Linked DNA regions of Homo sapiens: region 1 is linked to region 2. The links come from fine-mapping of genetic effects on gene expression. Tissue or cell type: subcutaneous fat. Region 2 holds a variant in brackets; the other region holds the start of a gene. All regions are shown on one strand. Distances are from middle to middle.

Region 1 (15,124 bases), 38 kb before region 2:
TACAGCAGGTCCAGAACCTGTGTGTTGTGACCCCCAGACTGTTCAATTTCTATGACATTTTGTTGCTGTCACATTTATCTTAGATGCATTATTCAAAACAGAGGCTAATAACAAGAAAGGCTTTCCTGTTTGAAACCCTTCCCCAAGAGCTCTTTGGATACACGGACTACCGCAACACTGCTGTTCCACGCCTGCCCCACCAACTGAGGATTATGTGTTCCAAAGATAGTCTCTAAAGTGCTCCATGGTCCTAAAATAAATAGCATGCAATTAACACTGTACTACTGTTTCTTTTATTTTTGAGTCCACACTGACAGGTTTCAGAAAAATAACCTTCAGACATTTACTGGCAATAATATTTATCTAATAAGATACCACACCACATACCAACAGAATAAGCCCTTCATATCTGCTAACCTTTTAAGGAGTAAACACTTTTGATTTTCCAAATACAAGACTCCAGTGAGCACAATCCATATTGCCATTTCATTTCCATCCAGTTAAGAATGCATCCCTTATCCATTTGGGGTATATTTACCTTCTCGTTTTTGAAGCATCAGCTTGAGTTTATTTCCACTTATGCCACCTAAAGGAATGAAAATTGAAATCCATATCAGAGTTATACTGCTCCCTTCAATTTATCAAAGGCAAAAATCAGAGTGGGAGAAAAGAACTGCGGGCCCCTGCCTTGATTTGGCAACTTGGTAACATCACAGTATTTAACACTTGCTGTATTCCCTGTCCTGCAGGACAAACAATTCAGGCTGCCCATGGCTAATACTGGTGATAATGACCACAGCCGACCAAGGGTATTACTATTTGAGCTAGTCAGAGTGATGCTGTTCTTTTAGCCCTGTGTCTTACTACGAGGCGCAGCCATCTGTCAAGCGCATCTTCCTGCAAATTTTCACTTCATGGTGTAATACGTTGAATAGTGAATAGTGTCCTCCTGAAACCCCTATCCACCAGAAACCCCTGAATGTGAGCTTATTTGGAAATGGGGTCTTTTCAGATATAATCCATTAAGGATCTCAAGATTTTTATTTTTTTTTTATTTTCTTTTCTTTTCTTTCTTTCTTTTTTTTTTTTTTTTTTTTTTTTTTTTTTACAGCCTTACCCATCACTGAGAGGGTCTCAAGATGTTATCATACGGGATTTAGATGGACAGAAATCCAGTGACTGGTGTTTTTATAAGAAGAAGAGAGGATCCACGGAGGTCACCCATGTGAAGACAGAGGCAGGCAGAAATGGGAGTCAGGCTCCCACACACTGGGGAACTTGCCTTTGCTCTCTAAAAGTGCAGCCCAGTTTTGTAGCTTGCCCAGATCACCCTAAAATCAAGTATGATTTGTACCACTTGCTGTTATTTGTATTCACTTTTAAAAGTGTTTCTGATCAGCTCAATCATTTTTAATAGAAAATACCTTGTCTGGCCTGATAGAACACACGCCTCCACCCAGCGAACTGGCTTGCAGACCTATAGGAGCCTCTGACCCTTAACTGTTGCATGACATCGTAAGTAGTGAGTAGAGCAACTTCGGGTGTAAGGAACTGGAGTCAGGCCCCAGGATGGAGGTAATGGTGACCACTTTCTCAGCAGGGTTCTTAGCCTCTCCTTCCATGGACAGGCTCCAGGGGGTCTAGAAAGGCATGTAAAATTGCGTTTGCATCTGCCAAGGCACAGTTTTCTGGGAATAGGAACCATAGCTTTTGCCAGACTCTTAAAAGTGTCTGTGACCCAAATAAAATTAAGAATGCCTGCTTTGTTTGTGAATTATACATCAATAAAGCTGGGGGAAAAAATAAATGTTTTAAAAGAGAACCTCTGCACAAAGAATTTACTGTGGAGTTGGGGCGAAGAATATATCCATAAACAAGAGTCACAAGCTGGCTGCCTCACCTGAGGCTGCATTTTATTAGCATACCCAGTGTCTACAAATTTTGAATTTGAATGCCTCTCAGCCCAAGTCACTTGGCACACTCATGGTCCGTAAGCAGCCACCTAACCTACTAGCCTCCTGTAGCATTTGGATTAAAGTGCTACCTGGCTGCCTTCAGAGTCATTGGGCCATCCAGGGAGCCTGCTGGCCTGCCCTCTGGGATGGGACGGGGAACCTGCTAGAACTTATTAAGTCTATTTCCTGCTAAGTGCCTCCCTTCTAATTCACGGGTAGGGTGGCCACACTTTCTGGTTGTCCAGGAACAGCCCTGGTATATACCTCTTGTCCTTGTAAATTAATGATAGTGCCTCCTTTTGCTCTCAAAAGTGTTTCAGCTTGGATGATAAATTACATGGCCTCCCAATTTTTTGAGGTTTAATGGCATGGAAATGGCTTCATAAGATCTCTAGGGACCACACTGAAGGGCCAGGGAGGAGAGGTGGTGGTTTCCCTCACACCTTCCCTATGAGAGCTGGGAGTCTGCTGGGTGGCCAGCTAAGATATCGGCGTAGTGCATAGCAGCCTGTGGGAGAGCTGCAGTGGTTTTTGTTGTCTGTGCTCAAGTCGGTCTATAGTGATGTAGTTGTTTAAAAAGCAATTGCAATCTTAGGCTGTTTAATAAAGGATACTTAAAAAAAGAAAGTAACTGTCCTGTCGCTGTTCCATCACAGCTCTGAACAGACCTCCCCTCTACTATTTAGTTCAGTTCACATCATCTCACTTGAAGAAGGTCATAGAAAAACCGGAGTTGTGGTCAAAGGAGAGTGTCCAGAGAGGACTAGCGCCCAAACATGTGTTATATGAGAAGAAATTAAAGGAATTTAGGTGTTTAACCTAGAGAAATAAAACTTGTGGAGCTGGGTGTGGTGGCTCACACCTGTAACCCCAGCACTTTGGGAGGCCAAGGCAGGCGCATAGCCTGAGATCAGGAGTTTGAGACCAGCCTGGTCAACTTGGTGAAACCCCGTCCCTACTAAAAATACAAAAAATTAGCCTAGTGTGGTGGTGCATGCCTGTAGTCCCAGCTACTCAGGAGGCTGAGGCAGGAGAATCGCTTGAACCTGGGAGACAGAAGTTGCAGTGAACCAAGGTAGCGTCACTGCACTCCATTCTGCGTGACAGAGTGAGACTCTATCTCAGAAAAAAAAAAAAGAAAGAAAGAGAGAGAGAAAGAAAGAAGGAAGGAAGGAAGGAAAGAAAGAAAGAGAAAAAGAAAGAAAGAAAAAGGAAAGAGAAAGAAGAAAGAAAGAAAAGAAAGAAGGAAAGAAGAAAGAAAAGAAAATAAAAAAGAAAGAAGAAAGAGAAAGAAAGAAAGAAAAAAGAAAGAAAGAAAGAAAGAAAAGAAAGAAAGAAAGAAAGAGAAAGGAAGAAAGAAAAAGAAGGAAGGAAGGAAGGAAGGGAGGAAGGAAACTTGTGGGAGGAGAGCCAATGCTTTGAGGGGCCACTGGGCCATAGGTTAGGGCATGAAGTAAGGTTTCTAACGCCCAGATAGACAGCCACCCAAGATGGGACAAATGGCCTTGGGGGGTTTGAGATTAAGAGTTGCTGGAGGCGTCTGAGCATAAATAAACATAGATGAGCACTTGACCAGGCTACTGTAGAGGGGATTTTCTAATTAGATGGGGGTGGGACTACTGTTTAACGCTCTACTTCCCTTCCAAACTTAAATTCAATGAAGAAATCTATGAAAATATTTGCCAAGGGAGACAGATATGTTCCTTGGCACTAATAATAGCATTCATTAATGTCTTAACATCTGTCAGTCTCTAACAGCTCACAGGGTAGTACATACAGAATTAAGTATGGCCCCTCCATCTGTTTGCCTTCTGTGAAAGTGCTTAACAATTAATGAATGAAATGTGGTCTGATGTTGAAATAGACACTGCGTGTAGGCATTTGCGATGAGGCTGCAATTTCTTGCAGCAAATGTATGTCACTATTACTCCAGAAATGAGAGCCTCGCCAAACCTTAGCTATAGATGGAAAAGCACAAATAAGTCCCAAATTATGAATTATGAATGTTGCTGCTGTGCCAGGTACTATACACTGAACTCCATATCAGTACATATAACTGGACACTACACTAAATTTGTTTGAGGAAAAGGATAAGGAACAATAGAATAGCTGTGATTTTTTTCTGTATTAAGGACTTTTCACCCAATATCATCAGTTGTTCATTCAAGGCTGCAATAATAAGCACTCCTTAATTTATCCAATCCAGTTGCCTAGCATTAGCTCTCCCAGCAAATTCAGAGCTGCAAAATGCTCCTTTGAAGGTGCTTAATATTAATAAATTGATCAAGAAGGGGTCACGGTCATTTTCTTTATTAAATGTTTGTGAGTGAGGAAGGGCGTGGTGGTTCAAGCCTATAATCCTAGCACTTTGGGAAGCCGAGGCAGAAGCATCACTTGAGCCCAGGAGTTCGAGACCAGCCTGGGCTACATAGTGAGACTCATCTCTACTAAAAATTAAAAGAAAAAAAAAAAATTGCCAGGCGTGGAGTCAACACACCTGTAGTCCCAGCTACTCGGGAGGCTGAGGTGGGAGGATTGCTTGAGTCCGGGAGATCAAGGCTGCAGTGAGCTATGATCACACCACTGCACTCCTGCCTAGGCAACAAAGTGAGACCCTGTCTCAAAAAAAAAAAAAAAGTTTGGAGGTGGCATAAAGAGTCACCTTTGGGATTACATAAAGATTTTCACTGTAGGCTGGGCATGGTGGTTCATGTTTGTAATCCCAGCACTTTGGGAGGCCAAGATTGGTGGATCACCTGAGGTCGGCAGTTTGAGACCAGCCTGACCAACATGGAGAAACCCCATCTCTACTAAAAATACAAAACAAAAACAAAAACCTTAGCTGGGCGTGGTGACACATGCCTGTAATTCCAGCTACTCGGGAGGCTGAGGTAGGAGAATCGCTTGAACCTGGGAGGCGGAGGTTGCAGTGAGCCAAGGTCACGCCATTACACTCCAGCCTGGGCAACAAGAGCAAAACTCCATCTCAAAAAAAAAAAAAATATTTTCACTGTATAAGAACTTTCACATCCCAGCTCGGTGATGATATTTTAACTGAGTTATTGGTATAAACTAAATAAAATACAAGTCCTGAAAATAAATGGCTTGTAGCCAGTGCTCACTTGACTTATTCAGATGTGCTTTTTTCTTCTTCTTCTTTTATTTATTTCTTTTTTTATTTTGCGACGGAGTTTCACTCTTGTTACCCAGGCTGGAGTGCAATGGCACGATCTCAGCTCGCCGCAATCTCCTCCTCCCAGATTCAAGCAATTCTCCTGCCTCAGCCTCCCGAGTAGCTGGGATTACAGGAACGTGCCATCACGTCTGGCATTTTTAGTAGAGACGGGGTTTCTCCATGTTGGTCAGGCTGGTCTCGAACCCCCGACCTCAGGTGATCTGCCCCCCCCCCCCCCCCGGCCTCCCAAAGTGCTGGGATTACAGGTATGAACCACCAAGGCCGGCCCAGATGTGCTTCTTAAAGTGGCAAGAACAAAGAGTGGGAGGCAGGTAAACCATACAACGGGAAATGACTGATTAGCTTCGCCTGTGATTCTAAGGTGGAACAATAATCCTCCCCACCTGAACAGACCTCACCACGCCTCCTGCTGTTTTAGCAACCCCGGGGCTCCATCCCAGGGCTCCTACTGAATGTCCCCTGCCTCTTCTCACCTCGAGTTCAGTTTCCATACCTGTTTCGAATGAGCAAAATACAGAAACTGAGCAACCGAGTGAGCCTCCCTTTTACATTAGGCAGTGCCCAGCTGCTTTGCAGTGGGACAGCGCCAGTCTCAGGCTCTTGGGCAAGTCACTTCATACACCAGTAACTCTGAGGTAACAATCCCTGCCTCCCCTAGTTGTAAGCTTCAAAGGCAGTCATGTGTCCTTGAGGCCACTTGTGAACCATAAATGTTCCTCCTACCCAGTGAAGGTGGTAACTCAGGACAAACCACGGCTTCAGATTATGGTTCCTAAAGTGGGGCCTGTGGAGCCCAGCGATCAGATATCGGAGCACCCATCATTCTGGGTGTGCGTGTGAATGCACGTTTTACAGAGAGCGAGCAGAGAATTTCAGAGTTTTCAACCGATTCGCTGGGAGCTCCACGAAGCAGGAAAGATTAAGCATTACTCCTTTAAGAGCCTTTCCCCTCTCTGGGGTGTGAGGCCTGTGCCCAGCTTTGCAAATTGCAACTTGACCCAGCTGGGAAGCGCAAGTCAACTTGGTTGCTAAGCGACTGCCTGGAAGGGAATGGCGGTGATGGTGCCATTTGCCTCCTCTGGGTTACCAGCTGCGTAAAGCCCCCACAACCCTTTTGCCCCTTACGTTAAGCCACGAAACACTACTTGCCCACCCTTCGGACGCCTGGCCCTCCTTGCCCAAGGTTGCCCGGGAGATCTGAGACCCTCCCCTTGACCCCGGTACTCTCTCCACCCTCACAAGGGCACCACTTCGCACTTGTGCGAGTGCAAAACCCCAGACCCGGTCCTCTACCACCCCTTGGCCCTGCCTAGGCTAAGGATGGGTCCCTACGCCGCCACCCCATCACCGATCGCTCTCCCCGGGCACCATGGAAGCGCCACATGGGGCCAACCCCTGGTGCCGCTATCAATCAGCCTGGCATCGCCCCGCTCACCTGGGCCCCAGCACAGGAGCAGGAGCAGCGCCAGCCCGGTCAGGGCCAGGACAGCAGGCCGCGCGGGGGAGGCAGCCATGGCGGCGGGGCGCGAGCAGGAGGGCGAGGGGCGCACTTCGAGGTGCTGCGAGGGAGAACCGGGCGCGGGAGAGGGGTGCGAGCGGGCAGGCGCGGCCGCGGGTTATCCCTGCGTCGCTGCCGGGGCGGGACCCAGCGGGTGGGCGCCGCGCCAGAGGGCTGAGGGCCAAGCGGCTGCGCCCAGCGCACGGGCGAGTACCACCGAGGTCCTCTCTCCCGCCCCGGCCCCAAGGGGAACGCAGCCCCTGGGCTCCAAGGCCAAGGATGCTTGGCCACGGAGAACCGCCGGCGGCGGGGGCCGCGTGGCCAGCGCTGCCCGCAGCGAAAGCGGTTAGGACAAGCTGGGTTCCGGAGACCCAAGGAAGGGCAGAAGGCATCGGGAGAAGGGACGAGGCCCCCTGGCCACTCAGAGGGAGGACTTGCCGGATCCCAGCGCTGGGGTGTCTCCTTGGCTCCCCCACTTCCTCCGCCCGCCCCAGCCGCGCCACTGTTCCCCTTACTCCTCACCCCTTTCTTCCCTATCTCCCTCCCTCCCTGCTTGGGGGCCTTGCTTCTGCCTGGTTTGTAAAGTGGGCTTTGGAATTTCCTTAGTTCAGAGCTGCTCTTAAGGATGCCTTAGGCGGGGCTGTTTTTGAGATAGTTTGAAAGATTCCACAGTCTGGGTTCAGAGCTGCAGTCCGGGAAATCGTCTCACCCAAACTTCTCCAATAGAAAAGCCTTTGAGAAACCAGGAACCTGGTGCCCTGCAGCTGTGAGCAAAACCACTGCTTCCCTTTGCCCGCTCTGTAATCTGGGCACACTTCAGCGAGCGATGTTAAGGTGAGACCCAAGGGAAACGCAGAACTGCATCCCAGTAACTGGCCTGTTCAACTGTAGAGGACACGTGAAAGGAGGCGTAGTGAACAAAAACTAGAACAACTTTATCCCAACGGACTCTGAGCGGGTCACCTAATTATTCTCTCCAGGCCTGGGCTACAAAAGGATGGAGATGTGAGATTACCTTTCCTGTCTTCCCATCTCAGATCTGCCCTGAACTGAGCTGATTACCTCTTTCCTTCACCAAGGTTCTCACTTATTTTCCCCTCCCTGAGACGGAGTTTCACTCTTGTTGCCCAGGCTGGAGTGCAGTGATGGGATCTCAGTCACTGCAACCTCCAACTCCGGGGTTCAAGCGATTCTCCTGCCTCAGCCTCCTGAGTAGCTGGGATTACAAGGCATGTGCCACGAGGCCCAGCTAATTTTGTATTTTTAGTAGAGAAGGGATTTTACCATGTTGGCCAGGCTGGTCTTGAACTCCTGAACTCAAATGATTCACCCGCATCGGCCTCCCAAAGTGTTAGGATTACAGGTGTGAGCCACCACACCGGCCAGTATTTTTATACCCTCCAGTGGTAAGCACTTACTGTCTCTCCATATAATTAGCTCTCCATGCAATGCAGTTGAATTTCTCCAGCAGGAAGGAGAAAGAAGTCTTCTAACATTGAGCTAGTAAAGACAGATGGTGGCCAACCAAAGAAAAAAGTGCAAAGTGGGTCTGAGTTAGATCATGATACTGCCCAGGGTGTCAGAGAGAATCAGAAGGATAATGTTACACATCTAGCTATCTTGGGGAAGTGCTTCTAAACCCTTGAGGAAACTGTAGAATAGGGGATAGGAGTTTTAAAAGTAACCAGGCATATATTTACTTTTGCCTGAGGACAAGAAATTTATCATTAGAAAGAAAAATCAAAGCACATAAAAAGCCAATATTCTGTTTGGATTGGTTTAGAACATACATTAAACATAATGGCTGTAATCTTATTTATCCTGTGGAGATCATCCCCCTTACCCCAAATTGCTACCAATATCTACTTCTAATATGACATTCAAATTCTCTTCACTTAAGGGGGATCATGGTGGCTCACGCCTGTAATCCCAGCACTTTGGGAGGCTGAGGAGGGCAGATCACTTGAGGTCAGGAGTTTGAGACCAGCCTGACCAACATGGTGAAACTCCCTCTCTACAAAAATGCAAAAATTAGCCAGGCGTGGTGGTGCGTGCCTGTAGTTCCAGCTACTTGGGAGGCTGAGGCAGGAGAATCACTTGAATCCAGGAGGCGGAGGTTGCAGTGAGCCGAGATTGCGCCACTGCACTCCAGCCTGGGTGACAAAGCGAGACACTATCTAAAAAAAAATAAATTATCTTCACTTAATCGGGATATGACCAGAGAGTGTTCTGTAGCAGGGAGCGTCTCACTCTGCCTTCAGAGGGGCCGCTAAACTCATGTGTTCAGCCTGGAGACACTATGTCAGTTCTTATGCTGATATCTAAGTTCCTTTTCATCTGTCTATTTGTTCAACGGTATTTACTTACTGTCTTAGTCCATTTGGGCTGCTAAACAAAATCCCATAAGCTGGGTAGCTTATAAGCAACAGAAATGGATTTTGCACAGTTATGGAGGCTGGAAATTCAAGACTAAGGCCCCAGCAGATTTGGTGTCTGGTCAGGCCCTGCTTCCTGCTTCCTAGATGGCACCTTCTTGCTGTGTCCTCATACGGTAGAAGGGGTGAGGGAGCTCTCTGGGGCTCTTTTATGAGGTCACAAATCCCACTCATGAGGGATCCATCCTCAGTACCTGATCATCTCCCAAAGGCCCCACCTCCTAACACCTCACTTCAGGAATTAGGATTTAATGTATGAATTTAGGGGAGACACAAAAATTCAGTCTGTAGCACTTATAAAATGCTAGCTACATGTGAGACACTATTAAAGGTCCTTTTCTTACTAGTCGCTTAAATTTTTCACCCCTTTAATGTACAAGACCCTCCTTTCTCCCGCTGCTAAGTCTGGTCTGATTTTTCATTCCAGTGTTTCTCAAACTTAGTCTGAAAATCCCAAGGAGCTTGTTAGTGCAGATTTCTGAGTCAAATCCCCTGGAATGACGTAGGTCTTGGGTGGGGCCCAGCTGTCTCCATTTTGTTTTTATTGGCTCCTAGAGGATGCTGTAGTCCTCAGACTGCACTTTGAGTAACTCAGCTCATTCAGCTCTCCACCAAAACGCACCTGCTTCCTAAAGTCTCTACCTGGCCTCACTCAGTTTAATAATGCAGTTTCTCTCCCTTGATATACCATACCAAATGAACCCCAGGACCTTCGTTTCTGCCATGTGACAGTAGCTAAGGACGTGGGCTTTGGGTTCCAGTTCCTTCTGCATTATGCACAAACTGTGTAATTAGATCACCTGTCCTCTCTAGGCCAGAGGTAATATGGGGGCAATATTATCTATCACACTGGGGTAAGAGATCACATGCACAGAGCCTGGTGTACAGTAAGCACTCAACAAATGTTAGAAATTATTTTCAGACCAAACTCCCTCTGGCCTCTGAGCTCCCCACCCAGTGCTCTTACACCTCTCTGATCCTCCCTTCCTTTGGCCAGGAGCTCTCATTGTAGACGATTCCAATCCACTCCACATACCATTGTCACACATTGTCAGACTGACCTTCTCAAACACAGTCCAGACATGGTGTTCCCTTCCTCCACGTGACTCAGGGGCCTCAGTGGTCCTCCCTCTGTGGCTTCCAATTCACAGATACCTGGCAATAGCAGATAGAGGACTGTAGGAAGTGCCATCACTCTGCGAGCGTGCCGTGAGCTGAATGCACACAGGGGAAAGGGGGCAGGGTCTAAGACGGAGCTGCCTTTGATTATGAGAGGCCTCAGAGAGAACAACCACAGCAAGGCCAGGTCCATCTTGACTCTGCCTCCAAGGAGCCAGCAGTAAGAGAGATTCGACAGCCGAGAGGGCTTCATTTTAATTAACATTGCTAAATATTTTAGGTGTGAAAATGGTATTGTATTTGCAATTTTAAAGCCCTGTCTATTAGAACTATATACTGAATTTTTATGGGTAAAGTGATTCAATGTATGGGATTTCACTTAAAATAGTTCAGGAAAAAGATTGGCAAACAGAGATCATTTTTTTGCCAGGAAACCACTTACGCTGTCCTTGACTCCCAGTTATTATATGTTTGGGAGCTATGGTCTGAATGTTTCTGTCCTCCCAAATTTCATCTGTTTAAATCCTAACCCCCAAAGTAATGGTATTAGAGGTGGGGTCTTTAGGAGGTGATAGGGTCATGAGGGCAGAGCCTGCATGAATGGGATTAGTATCCTTTAAAAAGCGTCCTCTAGTGAACTCCCTCTTTCCTTCCGACATGTGAGAGCACAGTGAGAAGGTGCCATCTGTGAATCTATGAGCCAGGAAGTGAGCCCCCACCAGACACCAAATCTGCTGGTGCCTCCATCTTGGACTTCCAGTCTCCATAATTGTGGGAAATCCATTTCTGTTGTTTATAAGTCACCTGGTCATGGTATTTTGTTATAGCAGCCCAAACAGACTGAGACAACAGGGGATTATTATGCTATTCTCTGTACATGTTTATACATTTTCATAATAAAAATTTAAAATATAGACTCTTAGTGGCACTTCATTAGCTATACATATGTAAGAATACATAACATACACAGAGACCTTCAGACTCTCTATTTAGCCCTTAAACATGTACAACAGTGATTTTTTTCTTATGCTTCCTATGGTTTTCCTCATCTCCCCAAAACTCAAAATTCACGCATCAATTCTCTGCATCTTCACAGGTTCATGGCTTTACCTACAACATTCCTAGTCTCTGGGATGCCTTTGGGCCCTTATCTCTGCTACTCAAAACCCTACCGTTCCAGTTACCAATCACTGCTTCAAAACTGATCCCAGATTTAAAGGCTTAGAGAACAACCACCATTTTATTATGATCACAATCCTGGAGATCAGGAATTTAAGAAGGGCTCAAGTGAGCGGTTCTTCTGCTCCATGTGGTATTGACAGAGATCATCAATGATACTCAGCTGGCAGATGGGCTGGACTTGAGAGTCCCAGACAGCTCCACTCACCTGTGTGGCACCTTGGGACGGATAGCTGGAAGGCTTGACTCAGCTGAGATTGTCAACTGAAGTGCCTACATGTGGCCTCTCCAGCATGATGGCTTAGGATCCCAGAGAGAGTATTCCAAGATCAGATACTCCAAAAGACAAGAAGAGGAAGCTGCCAGTATTTTTAGGTCTTGGCCTGGTAACTGACACAAATCAATGCCATTGTATTATATTGATCAAAGCAGTTCACAAAACCTACAGGCATTCAGGAGGAGGGGTATAGATTCTATTTCTCAAGAGGAAGATGTCAAAGGATTTGTGCACATCTTTCATCTGCCACATTTACCCACCTTTCAAGACCAAGCTCTGATGCTACCTCCTCCAGGGGCTTTCCCTGCTTCTCCATTTGGGCCAGGACCACATTTTCTTTCTTTCTTTTTTTCAAAAGAAAGTGTGGTCCTGGCCCAAAAATCTTCTGCTCCCCTGAGTGTTTTCCTATCTTACATGTATTTGGTGCCTTATTTCTCTTTTCTCCCTTGGATTTTAATGTTTTTGCTCCTTAATTTCTTTGTTCTCTTTTTGAATTACCTCATAGAACCAAACGCCCTGTATTTAGTTGATGAGGGAATAAATGTCATCTAAAAGTGGATCTATGATTACACAAATCATGTATAAATGAGATCATTTCATATGACCCTGATTTTGTGTTCTTAAGTTTGATATTAGAAAAGTATGTGGTACATACAACAACAGCTCACAGCAGCAGCCAGGAACAGTGACAAAGAAGGCCCACTACAGAGGGAGAACCCTGCCCAAGGCCAGCCCGAAAACTGCCTAAACAACGGGCCGGCAACCACAGGGTTAACATTCATGCTCAGTGGTGGGCCCTCAAAACTCCTTTCCTGTTTATTAAGCAAATTTCCATGTTGGAATTTTAATAACTTGTGCCATTTGCCATTTGAAATAACTAACTGAAGCCAAAGTCAGGGAAAGGGGGAACATTTCCTTTCAGTCTAAAAAAAATATTGAGAAGCACAAAGTTCTTATTATGTAAGGCTCTAGTTCACAGAAGGGTTCTGTGAGTGGGATTGGCAAAGAGGTGCCCAGGACCCCACGGGTAGATGTGGCCCCTGAGTCACAGGGCCCAGGACCTCATGGGGAGGGGTGGCCCATGAGTGAGTATGAACATAAATTGCCAGCCAGGGGACCTGGACACAGCCAAAGAAGTTGTGAGATAAATGGCCATCGCAGCTGTAAGGGTTCTCTGGTCAAATGAGATGACATTATTCAAACAGATTAACACATGGAATGAGGCCAGTTTCTAGTCTCTTTCAAACTTTAATTTTCAGCATTTTAACTAAAAAGGTACTGAAAATCTGAGGAGAATAGGAAGACTTTATCCAGCCTGCCATGGTTGAAGCACGGATTCCCTCATTAAGACACTCCCCACATACATTTCCTGATTTCCTTTTCCTCATGGGGTAGAGGCCCACGGTGGACTCCTTCGTCTAAAACTCAGAGCAGCACTCAACCAACTGGACACAAATCATATAGGTTCACAGCAGGAGCTTGTAGCTCCATGGATGGTGAGCATCAGCCTTCGGGCACCCAAGGCCAATAGCCAGATGGCTGCTGTCAAAGGTGGGTCCCATGATTCACCAGCCTGCAGTCTAGTTAGTCAGGAACTGGGCAAGATCAGCCTGCAACCTGGCACCAGGGGAGCAGGCAGAGAAAAAAAGACCCCATAGGGGTCACCTAAGTGATTTCTTGCCTATTGAATGACCAAACCAGTCCCTTCAGCTTTGACAGGTATCTTCAATCCCCCAAGTAGTGGGAAAGGGTTCTTGTAGACACACTGCTCCTGACAGTCTTGGAGAATCATTGCTGGGGCCCTTCTCAGCTCTGTGCAGGGCCAAGTCATTAGAGCCAGTTCTCCAACTAAGTGCAGACTACACCCACCACAAGCCACAGAGCCACCCTCAGATAGTTTTCGTTTTTCATTCTTTTAAAAAATGTTCTCTTTTTGTGTGTTGTTTTGTTACATATTTAGTTTTGTTTATGTTGTTTATTTACAAATTTATGTCTATTGTGCACAGGATTTTAAGGCTGCCAATGTAAATGCAACTTTATATGCAAGTGTGACCATGTAGTGATCCTGTGGTTTTGGTGAACATGCAGTTGAAACCAGCTCCCCTCAAGCGCACGTCAGCATTAGAGATCCAGTCCTTCTGTTAAGGCATTATATCACCAAGACACTTTGTTTAAATGAAAGTTTGATAAGATAGTAACAGTAAAACAGCCACCAGTCATTGCAGAAAGGAGAAAGCAGCAAAGGTAACCGTATCTATATTAAGCATTTTATCCAAAACTTGTCTAGGCACCCATGAGGTACGATGGCTGCCCCCGCTCATGTAAAGCCTCTGGTATAAATGGTACTTTATGATTTCCAGATTGACCTCCCTGGGTCCTGCAGAGTGGGCAGGAATAGAGCCTCCATTTACAGATAAGGAACCCGAGGGCTGGGGGATGCTATTGCCAGTCAGCAGTTTGCACCAGCATCTAGGTTTTCTTACTTTCAGTCCCGGGCTCTTACCCTCTGCTCCAGCCACCCAGTCTGCATCTTTAGGGCTTCCAGAGGACAAGCTGTGCTGGGTGCTGTGCTTGGGAGAGTGTGAGGACGAATCCCAGCCCTCAGGAGGCTGTCTGTCTAGTTGGGCAACAGCACACAAACTCTAATGTGACAAGCAGCGGTGACTGTAGTTCGATTTGCAAGCTGTTTGAAAGCTGTCTCAGAACTGGTATTTATTATTATTATTATTATACTTTAAGCTCTGGGATACATGTGCAGAACATGCAGGTTTGTTACATAGCTATACACGTGCCACGGTGGTTTGCTGCACCCATCAACCCATCATCTACATTAGGTATCTCTCCTAATGCTATCCCTCCCCTAGCCCCCAACCCGCCGACAGGCCCCAGTGTGTGATGTTCCCTTCCCTGTGTCCGTGTGTTCTCAATGCAGAACTGGTATTTTAAGGACCAAAATCAATCAAGGTTCGTATTATTGGAAACAAGATGACAAAGATTCATAAAAGTGATTGACAGGTTACAAAATACCTTACATGGAGAGTTCATTATCTCAAACTCATGGTTCTGGGGTGAGGTCATTCCTCTACCAAAATGTGCCTCTTTGGCTTGAGATTCTGCTCCAGGATTTCTTTCCCCTTTGGTGCTCATAAAGCCATTTGTATCATATTAGCATATTAGTTTGAAATAATTGAGGTATTTCCTTTGTGAGATTTAGTCTTTGCTCTGTTTTCCCCTGAGTGTGTTGCAGGGCAGGTATTTTTAAGTCATTTTTCATACTGCATTAGTTAGAGCCTCTGGCTTTGGGTATACAGTCCTGAGTCATTGTTTACCACCTGACTGGTGTGCTTCATCCTCTGAGAGTTGCCTGGTGGTGCAGGAAGGGGTGGAGTAGCCTTGGTTGCTGGAGAGGCGCCACATGCACTGGTTGAGGGGTTTGTCACAGAGGTGTCTCTCACAGAGCCCTTC
Region 2 (15,124 bases):
TTATCTAACTACAAACACACTGTTGTTGTTATTTTATACTTTGGGTTATAATCCAAATTACATTATTTACTTTGTTGCTCAAATTGTTCTGGGTTTGGCCATTGGGAGCCCTTTCTGTTGGCTCCTGTGTTCTTTTGATGTAATCCCAGGCTTTTGTGGGTTTTTCTATTTGTTTTGTTTGTTTGTTTTGAGATGGAGTCTTGCTCTGTCACCCACTCCAGGCTGGAGTGCAATGGCGCAATCTCAGCTCACTGCAACCTCAGCTCACTGCAACCTCTGCCTCCCGGGTTCAGGTGATTCTCCCACCTCAGCCTCCCAAGTAGTTGTGATTACAGGCATCCCCCACCATACCCGGCTAATGTTTTTGTATTTTTAGTAGAGACAGAGTTTCACCATGTTGGTCAGGCTGGTCTTGAACTCCTGACCTCAAGAGATCCACCTGCCATGGCCTCCCAAGTGCTGCGATTACAGGCCTGAGCCACCACGCCCGGCCACATGCTTTTGTTTTCTGAGGTCCTTCTTATCTTCTGTGATTATAAGAGGTTCCAAGTTCATCTCCAGGTGCATTTCCCACCACAGTCTTAAACTCAGCCATTTCTCCAAGGAGCTCTGGTTCCTTTAATGGCATTAGAAACCAAAATCAGGGTGATGAGTTAGCTTGTCATTACCAGGGTTCATTGATTCTAGGCCCTTTCAGCAGACAGAGTTTGGAAATATATGAGGGTGGGTCTACCTGTGTGTGCACACATATCCAGAATTATTTCCATAATTATTGATCTGTATCTACGTTAAGCTAAACATGAGTCTAGACTAATGTCTCACACAGAGAACCACATGGTTCATTCTAGGCATTCCCTTGGCTTTCTGTAACCATTTACTCCAATAGAGAGAAACCTGCCTCCCACCATCCATCATCTTTTACTAATAGTCTTAATCCAAGTATACATGTAGAGAAGTATCAAAATTGTTAACCCAAAGCACATAAGAAACAACTTTATCAGCTGGAGTATAGTACTTCTGTATTGTTTCTTTTGTCTTTAGTCCTGCAGGCTCCACTCATTTCCAAGTTACTCAGATCATCACCTTTTCTCCTGCCTCCTTCAGTGAGGTTATGCCACATTGTAATACAGTTAGATTGTTTTGCCACAGGCTGGATTCCATCCTGGGATTACCAATCTCCCAACTGATAAATTCATAGTGTCATGTCTCCACAACTACAGTGCCTTATGAAATAATTTCACGGCTGTAAAACAATTCTGGGTGCTTTCCCTATTCCTCCCCTCTTCTTCCCCAATCCCCTGATGAACATAAATCTGTTTTCTATCTCTGTAACTCTTCCCTTACTAGAATATCATAAAATGAAATCATACAGTATGCAGTCTATTCATGCTGCCTCCTTTCACTTAGCAATATGCATTCAAGATTCATCCACATTGTTGTTTGGACTGAGGGTCCATTCCTTTTTAATTGTTAAATAGTATTCCATTGTATGGATATACCATAGATTGCTTATTCATTCACCTGTTAAAGGACATCTCAGTTACTTCCATGTTTTGGCAATCATCGATAAAGCTGCTATAAACATTTGAGTGCAAGTTGTTGTGCAGATATAAGTTTTCACATCAGTCGGGTAAATACTTTGGAGTGCAATTGCTGCATTATATAGTGAGAGTATGCTTAGCTTTGTAGAAACTGTCAGACTGTCTTCCAAAGTGGCTGTACCATTTCTCTTTCCCACCAGCAGTGAATGAGACTTCCTGTTGCTCCATATCCTCACCAGAAATTGCCATTGTCAGCTTCTGGGATTTTCGCCATTCTAATAGATGTATACTTGTGTCCCATTGTTGTTCATTCCACTTTTAAAAATCCACATTGGAGCATGGCCAATTTGGAAACAATTTTTCACTGGCCCTGGATTTGATGTTGCTTTTTTTTTTTCTTTGAGATGGAGTTTCACTCTTGACGCCCAGGCTGGAGTGTAGTGGCCCATGTTCTCAGCTTACTGTAACCTCCACCTCCGGGGCTCAAGCAATTCTCCTGCCTCAGCCTCCTTAGTAGCTGGGATTATAGGCGCCCGCCACAATGCCTGGCTAATTTTTTTGTATTTTTAGTAGAGATGGGGTTTCAGCATGTTGGCCAGGCTGGTCTCGAACTCCTGACCTCAGGTGATCCACCCCCCCTCTGCCTCCCAAAGTGCTGGGATTACAGGCATGAGCCACCGTGCCCAGCTGACATTTTTTTTTAAAGATAAGATTTTACGTGTCCTTTGCAGCGACATGGATGCAGCTGGAAGCCATTATCCTCAGTGAATTAACACAGGAACAGAAAACCAAACACCACATGTTCTCACTCATAAGTGGGAGCTAAACTTTGGGTACTCATGGACAAAACAATGGCAACAATAGAAACTGGGGAAGAAACTGAGGCAGCAAGTGTTGAAAAACTATTGGGTACTATGCTCAGTACCTGGATGGTGGGATCAATTGTACCCCAAGTCTAAGCATCACACATGTATACTCATATAACAAACCTGCATATATGCCCCCTGAATCTAAAATAAAAGTCTAAATTACGGCCGAGTGTGGTGACTCACGCCTGTAATCCCAGCACTTTGGGAGGCTGAGATGGGCAGATCACTTGAGGTCAGGAATTTGAGACCAGCCTGGACAACATGGTGAAACCCCGTCTCTACTAAAATACACACAAAAAATTAGGTGGGCGTGGTGGCTGATGCCTGAAATCCCAGCTACTCTGGAGGCTGGGGCAGGAGAATCGCTTGAACCTAGAGGCAGAGGTTGTGGTGAGCCAGCCGAGATTGGGCCACTGCACTCCAGCCAGGGTGACAGAGCGAGACTCTGTCTCAAAAAAAAAAAAAAAAGTCTAAATTATTTTTTTAAAAGATATTTTTTCAAGGCCAAAAGTCTTAATGGAAACAGCAGCAACTGATTCCTCAGTGTACCTGAATCCATGGACTTTGTTAGTATGTAAACAGAAGTGTCCAGTTGCTTAAGGCCTGTAAGGAAATAATAAAGTGAACAGAGAATGGGGGAGAATACAAGATCAGCTTTCGTCAGAGCAAAAAATAATTTTTTAATACTTCATTAAAATAATTAGGCCAAGCATGGTGACTCACGCCTGTAATCCCAGCACTTTGGGAGACTGAGGCGGGTGGATTGCTTGAGCCCAGGAGTTTCAGACCACCCTGGACAACATGGTGAAACCCTGTCTCTACAAAAAAAAATACAAAAATTAGTGGGGCGTGCTGGCACATACCTGTCATCCTAGCTACTTAGGAGGCTCAGGCAGGAGTATTGCTTGAGCCCAGGAGGCAGAGGTTACAGTGAGCTGAGATCATGCCATTGCACTGTAGCCTGGGTGACAGAGTGAGACCCTATCTCAAAAAAATAATAATCACAGTTAAGAGAAACGCAGGTAAAGAGGCAAAAACCTGTTACTGATGGGATGCATTGGGAGATGGTGTGGAATTCCCACTGGGTACAGCACCATTTGTTTATGAACAAAGATTCAAAGGTAAAAGTCCACCTTCCATCTCTCATGAACTATTTCACAATTACAACGTTCCATGTAGTGTGATGCAAGTTTTCAACACCCTGATGCTGAGAGCAGCTGGCTGGGGGTGGAGTGGGAGGGGAAGACGAGTGGGGACTGGAAGGGACAGTCCCCGCCAGTCCCACACTCATCTCGCTGAGTAAAGATGAGCCCCTAAGCCACGGGGGCCTCTGCTTGGCTAGTTGCTCTGCCAGCCCATTAATACTCGACTACTTAGTACAGGGGCCCGGACAGGGACAGTGCCACCCCAGGCCTGGACAGCACAATGCCAGGTAGTGCTTCTACTGTGCTGTGCCTGATTCACAGGCCTGATGGCTTCTCCAGGAGTCCCATCCTGAAGGCACGAGCTAGTCTATTTCAGGCAAGTTCTTCCTGTTTTCCAGCAGTCTCTGACTTACTTGGCTCCCCTCCCTCCTTCCTTACATTCCAGGCACAGATCTGTTTACACAACTGTACTTGATCTGAGAGAACAGTAGATGCCAGAAAAGGAAGCGCAAGCTCCCGCAGCTCCCCAGCACCCCTGCCTTCTTCCTCACCCACCCTTCCCTTCCCGCTCTTTCCCCTCTCCCCTTCCTCCTTGCCTTACTCACTGTTCATAAAATCTTTGGATCAGCCACAGAATCACATTCTGCAGCTTGAATCAAGATCTCCGGTCTCAGAGGAGACAACGCTGCACCCTCTGCTGACCTAGAAAATCTCCCCATCCTTCCTGTACATGGCATGTCTATTTTTAAAAGCCAGGAATAATTTTCTATTCCAGAATTTTCAATTGCAGTTTTTAAAATCTACCTAAAATGACACGGATGGATCTCAAAGTATCATGTTATATATGAAAGAAACCAGACGTTCAAAAGTACACTGTATGATTCTATTTTATATGAAGTTCAAGAACAGGCAAAACGAAGCCATGGTGATAGAGGTCGGAACCGTGGTTAAACCTGGAGTGTGGGGTATTGGCTGGAAGAAACGCAAAGACACATTCTGGATGTGGGAAATGTTTCATATCTTGATCAGGGTTGTGGTTACATGAGGGGTGTGTGTGTGTGTGTGTGTGTGTGTGTGTGTGTGTGCGCCTAAAAAGTCATCAAGCTGTACACTACATTGTGCACTTTGTATAAATTATATCTCAAAAAAGTACAGGAAAAAAGTTTCCCTGAAGTGAATGGACTAAACTGTGAATGCTGAGTGCAAAATAATAGATAGAAATCCCCCAGAGCCCTTCATTGAACAGAAGCCCAGAGAGGCTAAATGGCTTGCCTGCAGACACACAGCCAGTTAGGGCCAGACTCTGATAAGAGGCAACAGAATATGCTGCCTAGTTCCCTATGGCTGGGATAATTTCTTCTATCTAGGTAGTTTTCTTATTTTCAAAGGGAAGTTTTAAGGCATTTTCTTACTGGAAGGGGGTTGATCAGATTACAGCACCTGGACCCATCTATTCCATGAGATGTAGGTCAGAGTATGCTTAACACCTCATTCTACAATCTGTGGATGTCCACACCCTGCCCAAGATTTTTGCTGGGAAAATTGGAGTGGTGGGGTGTGTCAGGATTTACTCCTTCTCCTGTTCATATACTGTCAGGTCCCAAATCTCTGTTCTTCTCAGACTAAAAAGAAAAAAAAATACAGCTTCTTCTTTGATTTCCACATAGAGTCACAGAGCAGATATTTATCATGCATTTTAATCCAGCCTTCCTAGATTTGAGACCTTGAACACCTGGGAGTCTCTGTGGAGCTGGTTTGCTGTGCTAGCCTCTCTTGCCTCCAGGGCTCAGGCAAGTCTCCCAGGGAAACAGAGAGATGAAATCACCAGAGACCCTGAATCAGGGGTAGTGACACTGGTGAAGGTGGTGGCAGCTACACACAGGTTTCAGAGAGAGCAGTGGCAGGACCTTAGGCAAGGTGGCCTATATCCTGCCATAAAGGTTATCTCATCAGCTGGCTCCGGATGTCTTGGAGAAGTAACTCGGCTGGTTAACCCTAAGGGGAGGTGAGGTACGGAGGGCATGGGTGTTGGTGGGAGACCAGGCAGCCACAGAGGTGGCCTTGGAGGCCTGCCTCCAAGGAGATGGTGGTGCATACTGCAGCATCTATGCTAGAAATGACCACAGTGTGGGCTCCACCGGGCCCATTCTGGGGTGAATTGGGCATGACCGTTTACCATAAAGTCTCCAGCCCAGTTCTCTGGTCCCCAGGAGTTCTTCGATCCAGCTAATACCCTTTACCAAATGCATTTGCTCCTCAACTAGCCAGAATAGGTTTCTGTTGCTTACAACTTGGAACCTGGCAGGATGGTGGTAATTTTGTATGTAATAAACCCTGCTGAAGATTTGGAGGAAACAGGATTGCTTATATCACACCAATGCAGACAAGCAAGTTTCCATAGAACCTGAGATGTACATGTCCTCAAACCCCTTTGGAAGCTCCACCAGGCAATTCTCCCCCATCATGCACCCTCACCCTGCCCTGAAAAGCCCCAGGTTCACCAGATCAGGCCAACTCCTTTCACTATTTCCTCCCTTTCAGAAGCAAGGCAAAACTTCTCTCATTTTCTCCAGCCAGAGCACTGGGGCCACCTCTGTGGCTGCCTGGTCTCCCACCAACACCCATGCCCTCTGTACCTCACCTTCCCTTAGCAGTTAACCAGGAGAGTTGGTTCTCCAAGAAGGCTGGAGCCAGCTAGTGAGATAGTAACTTTTATGGCAGGAAATAGGTCACAGAGGTGTGAGCAGAGGTGTGGCCATACTGTGCCACGCCTTCTATCCTCTTGTGTGGCAAGCCTAGAGGCCAAGTGATGATGGAGGCGCAAAAGATAGTGGAAACCAAGGTCCAAGTCACACCTTTAAGGAGAGCCATGCCTCCTCTTTCGACCAGGACAGACAAGGAAAAAACCTTTCACTGTGTTGTTGGAGAGATTCAGACGTTGAAGGTGGCCATGTTCAGCCTTCCTGGGTAGTACCCTAAATAAAGAAACGCTAGTCACATCCAGTGACCCATGGGGCATACACCTTGGTTGCTGAAACACTGAAAACATATTTTCTTTTTAAAAAAATGTTTATTTATTTACTTTTATTTTAATAAGATTCAGGAGTACAAGTGCAGTTTTGTTACACGAATATATTGCGTGATGCTGAGGTTTGAACTTCTAGTGTACTCATCACCCAAAGAGCGAACACTGTACTCGGTAGGTAATTTTTTAACTCTCACAACCCTGACCCTTCCCACTTTTGGAGTCTCCAGTGCCTATTATTCCACTCTGTGTATCCACGTATACCATTGTTTAGTTCCCACTTAAAAGTGAGAACATGCAGTATTTGATTTTCTGCCTCTGAGTTATTTCACTTAGGGTAATGGCCTTCGGCTCCATCCATGTTGTTGCAAAAGACATGATTTCATTCTTTTTATGGTTACAAAGTTATTCCATGGTGTATATATACCACATTTTCTTTTTCTTTTTTTTTTTTTTTTTTTGTGAGATGGAATCTTGCTCTGTCGCCCAGGCTAGAGTGCAATGGTAAGGTCTCAGCTCACTGCAACCTCTGTCTCCTGGGTTCAAGCGATTCTCCTGTCTCAGCCCCCCGAGTAGCTGGGACCACAGGCATGTGCCACCACACCCAGCTAATTTTTGTATTTTTAGTAGAGACGGGGTTTCACTATGTTGGCCAGGCTGGTCTTGAACTCCTGACCTCAGTTGATCCGCCCACCTTGGCCTCCCAAAGTGCTGGGATTACAGGCGTGAGCCACCGCGCATGGCCTATACCACATTTTCTTTATGCGATCATCCATTGTCGGACACTTAGATTGGTTCCATGGTTTGCTGTTGTGGCTACCACTGTGATAATGTATGACTGCAGGTGTCTTTTTGATATGATGATTTCTTTTCCTTTGGGCAGATACCTAGTAGTGGGGTTGCTGGGTTGAAGGGTAGTTCTATTTTTAGTTCTTTGGGGAATCTCCATACTGTGAAAACCATATTTTCTCATGTAAAAACAGGGTCCCCATGACCAGGTACGAGAAGTATCCTGGTGGCATGGGAGATCAGATTGGGGCAGCTCTGAAGGATGCTCCTTCGGGGCCCAGCAGCCACATGCCT[T/C]TTCCATTTCCCATGGCCTCTGCTCTTTGGAAGGTCTCTGTGTCAGTCACCTCCAACTTAGTGTAACTTTTAAAAATGTGTTGTGAGTCCTTAGGTCTTGCATTCCATCCTTATCTCTCTTCAGGGAATTAAAGTACTTGCCTTGGGGATTATGGGTTTCAGAAAGGAATTGAGGGGAGGTCCTTTGAGGAATACAACATCTTTTCTGCCTCAACAACACTCAGATGACCCATGTATGGTAAGTTGACTGTGGCTGTGAACCCATCACAATGTACACAGTAATGAGACTGATTCCTAAACCAACGATTTTTGTGGAACTTGGGAGTTCATTCTGCCCAGCCTGTCTTCCTTCCAGGATGGGATTCCCCTCCCAGTTGCTGATAGTCATAATTCGAGGCCAAGTCAGGTCATCTTGCAATGCTGAGGACCTTTCCACACCCAGGGTGACCTCTCCCATGGCTGGACAATGAGAATTTGGAAATTTCTCCTAGTTTTATCCCCAAGCCCAACCCTCTTTAATTCGTTGACTTAGTTCTACTATCATAAAACATTAGAGCCCCACCTATAACCCACTTAACCACATCCTTCTGTGTCCTAATCGCCTTTCTATTTCATGTCTTTTTCCAACCTTTCTTTTCTCTTTACTTTGATTTTATTATCTAGATGCTGGGATTTCATTTTGTCTTGTTGGGTCATATGAATCTTTGTAAGTAAGTTGCTGTTGATCCTTTTTGAAATAAAACAGGTTAAAGGAAAAGAAAAAGAAAGGACATTCTTTCTTTTTCATGTATTCCCCCATGAGATACACAGAATAAGTCAAAGCTTTTTTTCACATCAACCCGTCAAATATTTGAAGGCAGCTGGCCAATATCCCACGGGCCTCCTCTCCTAAAGACACACATTATGAATGGCTTCAGTTCTTCCAAAGATTAGAAGGTTTCCAGATTCTTCTCCATCGCAGGTTGGCCTCCTCCAGGGCTTCCCTGGTTAGCTAACAAGCTCCATTAAAATTCCCAGTGGGACTGAGGCCTGCTGAGACCTTGTGTGAGGGGACGTGGGCAGTCCTGGTATTTCCTGCTTGCCTGACCCTGTGCGTCTGATACCAGGCTTCAGAGTGGGGCAGCTTCACCACCACCTGCTGCTGCAATGTACTTGAGCCCTTGCAGAAACTTGTGTCCATAGCTCTTTTTCTGACTACACAGGAATATTTCCTTTGTTATCTTAAAGCAGTTTCTCAAACATTTAAAAACGATAGTTCCCTTTTCACATACCTAAAATTCTTATGCCTCCTTTTAATGTTATTTTAAGTTTCCAAGAGGCATTTTTTTCAAATATAAAGGTATAATATTGCACATCTTCCTATGCATCCTCCCTCCACCTGCAGGGTGTAGCCTCTTCTGAGAAGCACTAGAGTCACATCTTCGTCTTTTTGACCAAATGTGCCATCGTCCTGCCAGATCACCCACCTTCACCAGGGCTCTAAAGAGCATTTGGTTGGTTCCAAAAATAAAAACACTCCCAAAGACAAATATTTGTTAGTACTGGGAATTGCCCCCAAAATATGAGGCAGAGTCTAAACTCAATGTCCCGAAAGGAGTGGACTGGAATAAATGCTTAGGCTCTCAGAGCACCTAACTGAAGGGTACTACGCTCACTTATCAGGAAAAAAAAAAAAGAAAAGTCGACCATATTATTACTTTCTAGTCACATTTTTATTCAGGCCCACACATGAGATCTGCTCCAGGGCAGAATTTTGCAAGGAAAAAGAGGTGACACCTCTGTGAACAAGAAAATGCTTTTCCCTGGTGCCTACGGGGACATATGCTCAATATTTCTAATTTCTGAAATTCAAAGCAGTGAATAGTGGTTTATCACAAAGTTAAAGGCAGGATTTAAAATCTGGTATAGATCTCATTTGTAGCCAGAGGAGGTTGAGAAAGAAAGAAAACAAGAAAGGAAGAGAGAGAGAAGCAGAGAGAAAGAAAGACAGAGAAAGAGGCAGAGAGGGATAGCAAATGGGGAAAGAGAGAGACAGAGAGGAGAAAGAGATGAAGACATAGAAGGGGAGAGAGAGAAGGAGAAAGACAGAGACAGAGGAGAGACAGAGAGAGACAGACAGAGACAGAGAGGGAGAGAGACAGAGAACATAATTGGAAAAGTAAGAAAGATCTCTCCCATCACACTGTCTGTACTAACATCCCAAACTCAGCCCCCATCCCAGAAAAAGACAGAGAATAAGGAAAGGGAAGGATACATCTAGAAAGGGAAGGACGCATCTAGAAAGGGAAGGATACATCTAGAAATAGAGTGTCAGGTCAGAAGAGCTTAGTGAAGGACCCTTATGAGCTAAATTAGGGTTCCATGAGCCAACCTTCACCATAGGTCCCTCTTGACTCCACACCCTCAGCCAAGCCACCTGTTAGATTCTCCTGGGGCCCCTGATTTCACAGGCCCCAAGGCCCTGCCTGAGGGACAGAACAGCCCAGGGTGGGGAATGAGGCAATCGAAACCAGGGAACTCCTTGAGCTGCTAGTGTAGGCGGAGGGCAGGAGGGAGAACACATCTCCTCACACACTTCTTACGTCTACCTTTTACCTTGTAGAAAAATGTCAAAAGTCTTATTTATTGTAGCCAGGAATGCAAGGCAGGTTTCAAATTTTGGAAAGGAAAGAGCAACCTCATGTTCATTTAAAATCATAATTTAAGTCATAATTCTCCCCCCTCCCCGCTTCTACTCCCCAACTTTGGGCTAGCTGAAGCTGGTTTTAGGGCATTCCGTTCCAAGTTTGCATTCACAGATTTGCAACTTGAGTGAGCTGAGCTGGGTAAAAGAATAGCCCAGCTTCGGATGAGGACACCTGTGGGTGCTGCGTTGTCCTCATTCCTCAAGGGGAAGAGAGTGCAACAAGGATGCTTGCAGCTGCTCAGATGCTGGCTCAGGCACAAAGCATCTTCCAGCCCTGACAATGGTGCCATTTTTCTTCCAAGACCAATTGCTAAGTCCTGCAGGATTTCAGGCTTCATCAGAGATATTAAGAGTGAGCAAAAACCTTCCTGACACCAGTTCCCAGGTGTAGGGAAAACACTCAAACTTCCTCTGGGAGGTTTCCTGGCTCCTCTGATGTGGTTGCAAGAAACAAACCAATAGTAGTTAGCCAATGTGATAGCAGAAATCCACGGCAGGCAGAATAATGGCCCCAAAGATGTCCACATCCTAATCTCTAGAACCTGTGAATATATTAGGTTACATGCCAAAGGGCTATCAAAGTTGCAGATGGAATTAAGACAGCTAATCAGCTGACTGTCTTGGGCAGGTGGGCCCAATGTGGTTGCAAGGGTCTTTATAAGTGGAAAAGGGAGGCAGAAGAGAGGGAGCCAGCGAAATGCAGCATGAAGAGGACTCAGCCTGACTTTGCTGGCTCTGAAGGTGGAGGAAGGGGCCACAGCCAAGGAATGCAGGTGGCCTCTAGAAGCTGGAAAAGGCGAGGAAACGGATCATCACCTGGAAGGAAGATAGCACTGCCAACACCGTGATTCTAGCCTAGCCGTGATGGCAGGAAGATTAAATCATAAACCAGTGAAATTTGGGGGGTGAGATAGGCTCAGAGTGTAAGAGGTAAAGGACAGGAATGACTATCACTTTTTATGTAGTTTTGACTTTGTTTTTTCTTTTGAGACAAGTTCTTGCTCTGTCTCCCAGGCTGGAGTGCAGTGGTACACTCACAGCTCACTGCAGCCTCAGTCTCCTGGGCTCAAGCAATCCATTCGTCACACCTCAGCCTCCTGAGTAGCTGGGACTACAGGTATGCACCACCATGCCAGGCTAATTTTTGTATTTTTTGTAGAGATGGGGTTGTGCCATGTTGCCAGGGCTGGTCTCAAACCCCTGAGCTCAAGCAATCTTCCTGCCATGGCCTCCTGAAATGCTGAGATTACAGGCGTGAGCCACTGTGCCTGGCCAGTTTTGACTTTTGAATTATGTGTTTTACATATTCAAAAATAAAATTAAATCAAAGAGTTTTTTAGAAGCACTCTAAACTTGGATAAACACAACACAATGATATACTATCTACCAAACTGGTTACATAAGTACATAGAAAAAAAGAATTAAGTAACTTAAAAGCTGAGCTCCAAGCATACACATTTAGTTGGACTTATTCTAAGGGTAAAAAGACCTGCAAAGAAATCTTGATCTTAGGAGTTTTGTTGTCAGTACTGGTATCGATACTGTGATTCTGGAATATTTTGAGTTATGTCCTAGAATAAAGCAATGAGTAAGGAAGAAGAGAGATACAAATATGGTGTGGAGGATATTGAGGAAGAACTCGGCAATGTATTTGTGTTGAATTGTCTTTGAATTGAAGATATCAGTATAAATCCATGATTCCAAAGATACATTCCTTAGTTCTCTCCACTGAAAGGGAGACACACTGAGGCCCTCATAGCAATGAGCATATGTAGGCCCCAGATCTTGGTTTCTTTCACCCGGATCTAAGTATCACTCTCTATCAAAAGCAACCAGGATTCCTTGGTAAATAGCTAATTTGGGTGTTGAGCAGGAAAAATATAAGATGAGCCTGGAAGTACTCAAAGACCATAGTGACCGCTAAAATGTGGCCCAGCTAGGAACCAAACCTAGGTCTTCAAATGTCAAACCCAGCAATTATTTCTACTTCACTGCCCTGTATTTCCCACCATGAAATCTGCTCCCTACTTTACACAATCTATATTTTGGTATCACTTTTAAATATTAGAATTTTGTTACAGCCATCGAAGTGGTATCTTTCTCATTTTATTTTCTCTCCTTTAATAGAAATAAAGCTTTTGAAAAGCCAATCACCAGCCTACCCGAGCATCCAGGATTAGGGTCTGTACTTCTTTTATGTTCTTGAGCAGCGTTCCTCATCCTTTTTGGCACCAGAGACCAGTTTCATGGAAGATAATTTTTCCACGGACAGGGATTAGGGGGAGTATAGGGGTGGGGAAGGGTGGTTTTGGGATGAAACTGTTCCACTTCAGATCATCAGGTACAGATTCTCATAAGGAGCATGCAACCTAAATCCCTCATATGTACAGTTCACAATAGGGTTCATGCTCCTTCGAGAACTAATGCCAGGCTGATCTGACAGGAGGCATGGCTCAGGCAGTAATGCTCACTCACTCACCTGCCACTCACCTCTTGCTGTGCAGCCCGGTTCCTAACAGGCCACAGATTGGTACCAGTCTGTAGCCTGGGGGTTGGGGACCCCTGTTCTTGAGCTCCAAAGCATGCCTGCTAAAACTCTGCTCTGAACATCCAGACCCAGCCTAGGGTAAAGAGACAACTCAGAGAGATGGATCCTTCTGCAGCGTGGCCTCCTGGTTGAGGGTGGTTATTTTTTCTCTGCATTAGTTACCCTCGTTCTTTATCTGGAGAAGGAGCAAATGGAAAAAAGGGGAAAGAGAATGAGACTTTTCTTTTAATAAGTTGAATATTGACCCTGGCCAACAAAGATTTTGGCAGCACAGATTGAAATGCATTCCTGAAACAGACTGGAAGATCTCCTTAATATGCATCAACTGCACCAAATTCAAAAGCTATTACCTCTTACGTTTTCCTTCCATCCACAGGAGGCCCCGCCCTTTGTAAAACAAACAGTTGTCAGGGGGCCGATTCCCCAGTATGGTCACTGTGCAGTGCTTCAACATTTGTTATCACCGTACCATTAATTTCCACACACATCTGCTTGAGGATTTCTTCCTGCCCCGGATGGCATGTTCATCTCCATCTAATTCACATTTTATTGCCCTTGTCTTGCCCCTAGCAAGCGTTATCAAGTGCTGTAAGCATTCCAGAGCTGTGCCAGGTGGCTGGGAGGCCCTCAGCCCCATTCCCTGTGGTTTGAGGCTGCGCTTACAGCTTTAATTTCCAGTCAGCTGTAATTCAGGACCACAAATGGCCAAATTGAAAGGGCTCGCTCACTTCCAAAAAGCATCTCACCAGTAGCTCCTAATTACAGAGCCAAGTGCAAACGACACTGCCTTGCTTGGAAGAGAAGTGAGGGCTCTTTCTCTCTGCTTATTTTGGACACCCTGGGTCACTGAACAACTAAATCTACACTGGAGGATGGCTGCTCCCATTTCCCAGGGGGCCTGGCAGAGGTCCCAAAAGGCAATTTCCCAGGCATGCCTAGTGTGGAGGCCCTGAGAAACGTCGGCTGAAATCAAGCCCTGCCTGGGCTGCTGCAATATTTTCCAGCCAGTGCATCTCAAATGTGAGAAGTGCACAGATCATCTTAAAGGGAAAAAAACTACACAAATTAAGAATACAACTCAAAGGACCCTCTTTAAACAGTGCTGCAAAAAAACAAAAAACAAAAAAACAAAAAACCTAAAATCTCATTCCATGCAAATGCCCTTTAATTGCATTAGCACTGCAAGAGTTCTGTCTTTATAACTGGTATAATTTAGAATGTGCTTGCAGCCCTGGTGCAGTTTGGGAATGAACCTATGCCTTATTTTCAGAATTGTTCTGCAAGGAGTTATCAAAGGATTCACACTCATACCTTCTCATTGCACCAGGCAGACCCGCCTCCTCTCGATTCTAACAATATGTCACCTAAAACCTGCTGCCCAGCATTTCTTTTGACCCTCACAACCATCCCTGAGCCTGGCAGGACTCCTCTAGAGTTTTCAGGAGAGGCGACAGAAGTCACTGGCCCAGGGTCCCAGGAGTAATAGCCACAAGGTTGGAGTTTACGCATTGCTGTTTCGGCAGGGCAAAAAGAATCCAACAGCAGTAATATCTTATGGTTCTGCATAATGGAAGCTGGCTCAGAGCCTGGGATTTCTGACTCCCCACGGAATGTTTTGCTGTTAAGCTGAGATACTTCCAAAACACAGTTAGGTTTGTTAAGTAACACATGGGACATCTTTGTAATGAATTACTAGGTACCCATTAACATTGGGTTTTAAAAGGATGTGGGAAATAAGTTTCTTTATATTTTTAGAAAAAAACAAAACTAGGATTATAGAATTTTTACTTCTTTAATTTTTTTATTCACATACCTTCTATCACATGGAAGTAGAAGGTAGATTGAGAGAAATCTAGCTTCACCCTTGCTCTCTCCACCTTCTCCTTCCTTTTAAAGATAAGGATGCTATTCATTATATAATCAATCCTTCTGTTTTATTTATATATATATATATATTCATATCCCCTCTTTCTTAGACAAATGGCAGCGTATTATATTTACTTTTCTATATTTTCTTTTTTCTTTTTTTGAGATAGAGTCTCATTCATTCTTTTTTGCCCAGGATAGAGGGGTGTAGTGGTGCAATCTCAGCTCACTGTACCTTCTGCCCCCAGGCTTAAGCTATTTTCCTGCCTCAGCCTCTGGAGTAGCTGGAATTACAGGCATGTGTCACTACGCTTGTCTAATTTTTGTATTTTTAGTAGAGACAGGGTTTTGCCATGTTGGC

Evidence for each region. PIP is the estimated chance that this variant, and not a neighbour inherited with it, causes the effect.
Region 1: it holds the start of ECRG4, and the variant in region 2 is fine-mapped to the expression of ECRG4 in subcutaneous fat (GTEx, PIP 0.98).

The regions. Positions count from the first base shown.
Region 1 is chr2:106,057,306-106,072,429 of GRCh38, reverse strand. It overlaps ECRG4 (ECRG4 augurin precursor), which reads right to left and starts at 6,742. Exons shown (of 4, transcript NM_032411.3): 1 at 6,587-6,742; 2 at 539-586. The coding sequence starts at 6,665.
Region 2 is chr2:106,019,575-106,034,698 of GRCh38, reverse strand. No RefSeq gene overlaps it. Among named protein-coding and RNA genes, the nearest start is that of ECRG4, 39 kb to the left of the region's middle. The variant T/C (reference allele first, on the strand shown) is at 7,664.